Linked DNA regions of Homo sapiens. The gene in region 2 interacts genetically with the main gene of each other region. Each region holds a gene or a part of one and is shown on either strand. Other genes may lie near its edges.

The links.
Region 1: changes in CMAS (region 2) and ZNHIT6 together harm fitness more than expected from each alone (negative genetic interaction), as found in Homo sapiens cells (one large-scale study listed by BioGRID).

Annotation. Positions count from the first base shown.
Region 1 is NC_000001.11:85,701,934-85,705,730, forward strand, and holds part of ZNHIT6 (box C/D snoRNA protein 1), read right to left. Parts: intron 328-3,797; coding exon 224-327; intron 1-223. UniProt on the Homo sapiens protein: Required for box C/D snoRNAs accumulation involved in snoRNA processing, snoRNA transport to the nucleolus and ribosome biogenesis.
Region 2 is NC_000012.12:22,052,393-22,056,487, forward strand, and holds part of CMAS (N-acylneuraminate cytidylyltransferase), read left to right. Parts: intron 1-2,756; coding exon 2,757-2,899; intron 2,900-3,062; coding exon 3,063-3,218; intron 3,219-4,095. UniProt on the Homo sapiens protein: Catalyzes the activation of N-acetylneuraminic acid (NeuNAc) to cytidine 5'-monophosphate N-acetylneuraminic acid (CMP-NeuNAc), a substrate required for the addition of sialic acid.

The sequences.
Region 1 (3,797 bases), on a different chromosome or scaffold from region 2:
ATATGAAGACACACACACACACACACACACACGCACACACTGCAAACCCAAATTTTTATTAGAGTTACATGACATACAATTACTACAGTTATCTTGTCATGGACCAATAACAAACAGTTTACAGAACCACACTTGGGGTAGCAATGCTCTATAGCAACCAAACCTTAAAGAATGATCCTGATCAAATCAGAATACCTGATATACTAAAAAGTTAGAAACTTACTTCTTATCAAAAAAGGTTGAATTCTCCTTCCTCTTGGTGAATCCATTGGGTAGAAGTTTTAAGTTAATACCTTGCCTCCGGGCACGATTTTTCATAAAGTACATCTAACAACAAAAACCAAACAGACAAATTAATTTTTAAATTCCTTAAATTTAAAAAGTGAGTAAAACAATGTTCAATAATAGTTAAGATTTACTGAGAACCTAAGTGTTACAACAGCTCTAAGCAGTAATCTCATGTAATCTTCACCATGATACTATGAGAATAGGTACTATCATCTCCATTTTAGCAATAAAAATTAGTGAGATCCCAACATCATACAGCTATCCCAGAGAGATAGAACCTGTATTCAAACCCTGGTCTGTCTAATTCCAGAGCTTGTGTTTCTAACCATATGTTCTGTGAGCCAAAGAAGAATTTAATGGAGATTAAACAAACAAAAACACAGGTCATTTGGCAATCACGGGGGCTACCTACACAATTCTTGATTTCTTTTACCGATGGTTTTACCAGTTAGCTGTATATATATATCACTGATTTTATTACTAGACAGCTCACTCAAGGGAAGAGCCAAGGCATTGCCTAGTACAAGGCCTAGCTTAAAGTAACCACTGTTGTGGGAAGCACAAAATGGGATATGAGAACATTCTGGCTCTGACATGTGTTATTACATTGACCACCTGGGTTGATTAAGCTAAACTGGGCAATTCCAGAGTTATGAAGGAAGTAATACCAGATTTTTATTAAGTCAAGGAAGAAGAAAGATCACTCAAATAAGAGGCAAAATATAAACGCAAGTTTTTTGTTAAGTGAATAGGGATCTAGAATTTGCAATGTAAACAGTCAGAATCAAGTCCATAAGCCAAGGAAAGGATGGGTCAGCTATCATTGGCTAAGTAGGAAACTGTTTTAAGAAATTACATGTAATTTTATAATTTAGAGGACTTTAGTTTCAGTAATGGTAGTGATAATTATAATAATTCTAATAGCAGTGACCAACCCTCCTAATATACCTTCAGGATAAGGGTGAACCAGAAACAATCTCTACTTTTAGAGCAAGCTAGGAAACTTGTATGGTTACACTGAAACAGAGGAAAAAAGAAAAAAAATCCATTAGCAGTTATGGCTATGGACCATCCCTTGCTTAGATTTGCAATTATTTTGCCTTGAAAACAGCACTGAATAGCCATACTCTAGAAAAAAAGTGGGAGGACTTAATCAGATAACAAGTTTCAGTAAAAAACCACAATAATTCAGAGAGCATAGTATTGGTGCAGGATATACCAGTAGGCCAACAGAATGGAAAAGACAAGGCCACAAAATGACCCAAGCATATAGGGATGCTGATATATGACAAAGGTGGTCCTACAGAGCAATAGGGAAAGGATGAACTTTCCAATAAATGGTGCTGGGAAAAGTGGATTATCTATATGAAAAATTAAATGGGAACTCCTCTGTATATGATACCAAAAATCAATTCCAGTTAAAGACATAAGTGTAAAACACAACAGTATAAAGCTTTTAGGCAATAACTATAAAAGAATAACTTCCTAACTTCAAGGTAGAGATGGATTTCTTTATAAACATATAAACCTACTAACTATAAAGGAAACAAATGATAAATTTGACTACATTAAAACTAAGAACATCCATTCACCACAAGACACTATAAAATGAAAAGACAAGACAAAGACTAGAAGAAGGTATTTATAACATACAACCAACTTGCACTAGCATCCAAGAAATACCAAGAATTCTCACAAACCAGTAAGAAAAATAAAGCTGACCAATGAAAAGATGAGCAAAAGACTTGAACAGGCACTGCATAAAAGAGGAAATCCAAATGGCCAATAAAGTATTTGAAAGGTGGTTCAATCTCATCAGGAATTAAAGAACTGCACATTTAAAACCACAATAAAATTACAAAGCCAACAGATTGACAAAAATTTTTAAAGTCTTACCAAACTAAGTATTGGCGAGAATATGACAATAGGTACATTCATACACTATTGGTGAGAGTGTAAACTAGTACAATCACTTTGGAAAATGTTTTGGTAACATCTAGGCAAATTGAAGATATGCATACCACACAACAAAGCAATTCTATTCCCAGGTATAAACCCTAGAAACACATGTTCACACACATACTATAATTCATAGACAAAAGTAGTGGCATTGTTTCTAAACTGTTTTTTATTCTTACAGAAAATCCAAAATCCATTAAAAAAATGCGTAAACAAATTGTGGTACAGTCCTAAGATAGAAAAAAATATAAAGAAATGAGAAAAGATCAGGGAAGGGCATAAAAGGGTGGCATGGAACTTCTGGGAAGCCAGTAATGTTCTAATTCTAGATTGGGGTGGTAGTTAAATGAATATTCATTTTATAATTATTCATTATACTGTGTATTTCCATTTTGTGATGTTTAGAAAATATACTTGCTATATTTCACAATTTAAAAAAAAATTGTAAAGTAATTTATCTTTAAGTAGAATTTTAATTATGCCTAATTAAGTTTGAGGAAAAATAAGAGTTGCTATATGAATAATTTTCTTTCAGATATGTGTAATGTAATTATGTCTGTACCAATAATACCAATAAAATAAGGTGTTTAAAAGGTATTAAAATTCTGCAACTCCAATACTAAAATGAACACAATTCCAGGATACGATTTAATCACACCATAAACAAATTTCTACAACACCAGTTGCCAAATATTCCAAATATGTAAGCTTTAATTTTGCATAGTATTTAAGGAATTAAAAAAGGAATGCAAGAGTATGAAAATTAAGTGTATTAGAATAGCAAGTCTTGTTAGCTCTTCCTTCAAAATCGCAATCTAATCCCTTCCCAATAATTCAAACAGTACACCCAAGCCACTATTATCTCACAAGGATCATGGGAAGAGCTGCATAATTGGTCTCCCTGCTTCCAATCTTCCATTCTTGCCCCGCTAAAGTTCACAAAGTGCAAGAGTGGTTTTTCAAAAGGCAAATTTATGTTCAAAACCCTTCCATGGTTTCCATTTGCACTTAGAATTAGAAACCCTCACCAGTTTCTTTTCTTTTTTCTTTTGAGACAGAGTCTCACTCTGTTGCCCAGGCTGGAGTGTAGTGGCGCAATCATGGCTCACTGCAGCCTTGACCTTCCTGGGCTCTGGTGATCCTCCCACCTCAGCTTCTCAAGTTGCTGGGAGTACAGGGGCACGCCACCACGCCTGGCTAATTTTTGTATTGTTTTATAGAGACGGGTTTTCACCATGTTGCCCAGGCTGGTCTTGAACTCCTGAGCTCAAGGAATGCTCTGGCCTCAGCCTCCCAAAGTGTTTGGATTACAGGCATGAGCCACTGCACCCAACTCCTCACCAGTTTCTCTAACTTCATTTTCAATACTCTCCTCCTCACTCACTATGCTTCAGTTACCTTGCAAATCTTTTAATTCCTCAAACCAGACATCCTTGTTTCTGACTCAGGTCTTTCCTTTTACTTTTGTCCCTACCTGGGATAATCTGCCTCCAAATGTTCACATGACAGCCTCTTTCTCAGCACTCAGATCACTGCTTACACATCATCTC
Region 2 (4,095 bases):
AGAAAAGCAAACCTCCTCCAAAATTCTGTTTTTTTTCTTGCTTTTTAAACATTACTTAAAGACCACTGAACCCTCTGGTATTGAATTTTCATTGCAGTAAAAATCAGGATAATGAAGTAAATGGCTTCAGCAATTTATTTCAATTAATGTAAATTAGATGCCAAATTACCATGTCTTTTGCCTTCCCTGTTTATTTTTTATTGTATTCTAATTTCATCTTATCCTCTCGTCATCTCTATTTTAAAAATGCACTAGGTTTTCATTGCTACTTTACTTTGTTATATACCTTTGACTATGACATTTCCCAAGAGAACATTTTTTTCCCACTATTTCAGATTTCAAGATGGAGGAAAATGGGGGCTCCTGCGTTCGCCCTGCATAGAGTGACATAAGTAGATATCACGGGATTCTTGACCCCTAGCCAGTGGCTCATCTTGTTTGCTAGGCTTTCTTTGATTATTTTTTCTTACTGACTTTATCCCTTGATTTAAATCCCTCTATAAATATTAAAGGGAATAAACGAAATAAATAAATGAAATCCAGGGATGTTAGAAGATTTTCTTTAGTTTTTCACTTTCTTTCCACTCATGATAATTGAGCATAGACAAACATGCAGTTCAGCCGAGCGTGGTGGCTTACACCTGTAATCCTAGCATTTTGGGAGGCTGAGGTGGGAGGGTCACTTGAGGTCAGGAGTTTGAGACCATCCTGGCCAACATGGCAAAACCCCATCTTTACTAAAAATTGGTCGGGCGTGGTGACACATGCCTGTAATCTAATCCCAGCTACTCAGGAGCCTAAGGCATGAGAATCGCTTGAACCTGGGAGGTGGAGGTTGCAGTGAGCAGATAATGGGCCACTGTACTCCAGCCTGGGTGACAGAGCAAGACTCTGTCAAAAAAACAAACAAAACATGCAGTTCATCTTTCCCTCAGTAGATATCGAAAGAGTGGGATAAAAGGAAAAATATATATGTGTGTGTGTATATGTATACATATACACACACACATATACACATTATATATACACATTATATATACACGTTATATATAATTTTGTATGTATATAAAATAATGTGTATATATGTTTGTGTGTGTATATATATATATACACACCAAATATATATATATATATACACACACATACACCAAAGACTATAAGTCATTAAGATATCTTTGCATAAATCACTATTAAAACATGGTGGGGGCCGGGCACGGTGGCTCACGCCTGTAATCCTAGCACTTTGGGAGGCCGAGACGGGCGGATCACGAGGTCAGGAGATCGAGACCATCTTGGCTAACACGGTGAAACCCCGTTTCTACTAAAAATACAAAAAATTAGCCGGGCGTGTTGGCGGGCGCCTGTAGTCCCAGCTACTTGGGAGGCTGAGGCAGGAGAATGGCATGAACCTGGGAGGCGGAGCTTGCAGTGAGCCGAGATCGCGCCACTGCACTCCAACCTGGGAGACACAGCGAGACTCCGTCTCAAAACAAAACAAAACAAAACAAAAAAACATGGCAGGGTTTTGTTGTTGTTTTTTGTCTTTTTTTTTGAGACAGGGTCTCGCTGTGTCTCTCAGGCTGGAGTGCAGTGGCGCGATCTCGGCTCACTGCAACCTCTGCCTCCCAGGTTCAAGCGATCCTCCTGTCTCAGCCTCCCTAGTAGCTGGGATTACAGGTGTGCATCACCATGCCCAGCTAATTTTTGTATGTTTAGTAGAGTCCGGGTTTCACCGTGTTGGCCAGGCTGGTCTCCATCTCGTGACCTCAGGTGATCCACCCGCCTCGGCTTCCCAAAGTGTTGGGATTACAGGTGTGAGACTCCAGGCCTGACCAAACATTGTGGCTAGAGTAGTATTTACATCTTCTGCATTTAGCAGTGGGAATTTGTGACTGTCCAGGAAACAAAACTTCAATAGAAACTGGTACCCCTCTCCAAAACAGCATTTTGCCTACTCATCATTTTGTAAAGGCTAAATAGGCAACTGTGTAACCTGCGGTTAATAGAGTATTAAGTTAAATTCTTTTGAGCTAATGAAGTCATGTTCTTCATGTTTGTTGTTATCAATGGCTATAACCCAGCTGATTCTACATCTATATACCCATTGTTTGTTGTTTAAAAAAGAAAGAGTTGTTTCATCTGATTTTTTTTGAGCCCAGACTTGGGCATTTATTATCTTCTAAGCTTGAAACTGTTTCACCTTTAGGGTTTGGCTAAGCCAAGTCCATTTTTTTTTTTTTAGCAAGCATATTAAAATATTTTATACAATATTTTGGATTTGGATGGAGAATAAGCAAGATCTTTAATTTTCTTTAGATTTGACTTCTAGTGCCTTTTTAAAAACGTTTATTTTAGGTTCAGGGGTACATCAGGCTTGTTACAGAGGTAAGTTGCATGTTGCAGGGGTTCGGTGTACAGATTATTTCGTCATTCAGGTAGTAAGCATAGTACCTGATAGGTAGTTTTTTGATCCTCACCCTCCTCCCACCCTCTACCCTCAAGTAGGCCCCAGTGTCTGTTGTTCCTTTCTTTATATAAAGCATATCTAGGACTGCATTTTTATTCATTAATATATTTATATACAAAATACTTTATAATTTCTTACATTTTATACTCCTTTGGATCTGTAACATTATTATCATTGTGCAAAAAATATTCTCACATTATATAAGCTGTATTTTATGGTTACAGAGCTCCATTTTATTGTTAATGATTTCTTTTGATTTGGCTGTTAATTTCTTTTGATATCTGAACAGTGTATGGGTTTCGACAGACCATGATGAAATTGAGAATGTGGCCAAACAATTTGGTGCACAAGTTCATCGAAGAAGTTCTGAAGTTTCAAAAGACAGCTCTACCTCACTAGATGCCATCATAGAATTTCTTAATTATCATAATGGTATGAATTTGATTAATAGTTTATTCAAACCTTTATGTACTTTTCTACTTCCTTTATTATCTTATAAGACTTGTTTTAACATTTGAATTCCAAACCTTAATATTACTTGCTTGCAAGGAACTTTTTTTTTAAATATCCTTTTCATTTCTCTTGTCTTTTTAAGAGGTTGACATTGTAGGAAATATTCAAGCTACTTCTCCATGTTTACATCCTACTGATCTTCAAAAAGTTGCAGAAATGATTCGAGAAGAAGGATATGATTCTGTTTTCTCTGTTGTGAGACGCCATCAGTTTCGATGGAGTGAAATTCAGAAAGGAGGTAATCTCTTTTCAGTCTTTATTTTAGCTGATTTTATTGAGAATCAATTTTTTTGTATATAAATATCCTTTAGGCATGAGGAGAGTAAAAGGGGAGCTGTAAAAGAGAGTATTTGACTCATTACTTTAGTAGGTAATGACATTTACAATCAGCTGTAAATCTGTTATCGAGCCAACACAGCTAGACCAAATTAATTCTTTGCTTTACTCTTTACAAAGGGACATTCTAATCCTCTTATTTCTGTTTGCCTTTTGAGGCAGATATGCTGTTTTTCTAGATCAAATACTTTTATGTTTGTTCTAGACATGTTTGATGAACTCCATACAAGTCATATAGAGATAGAAAGCATCCACCAAAGTGTTCTGAAGGATTTCAAGAATGACATTTTGAAGTTCTTCCCCAAATTCCTAACTCCATATATAAGAAGGGTTCCCTAGGGTTTACTAGGCATTTTGCCTGCCATGTCCAGTGTGCTATAAATCTTATCCAGAGAATTATTATAAACACTGTGTTTTTCCATTCAGTAATGTACATTTTAGTTGTTTCGTAGGGATTCCATTTTCTGTTGAAATTTTCCATTTTTTTATCCATTTTAAAAAAAGGTCATTTCCTCTAATTTAACATATTTTTGATAGCTATTTGAAAGTCCTTGATTGCAAATTTCAACATCTAGTCACTTACAGTTCTGTAATCTGCTTCTTTCTTGATTGTGAGTCACCTATTTCTGCCTCTTCATTTGGCTCATGTTTAATTGTATATCTGGCATAGACACTTGAGTACATATTTTCCTCCAGAGAGGGTACACCTTTTCTTCTATCAGGAAGATAGGATAAGGGGCTGATCACTTTGATTCAATTAGGAGTTGGGCTGGGTTGAA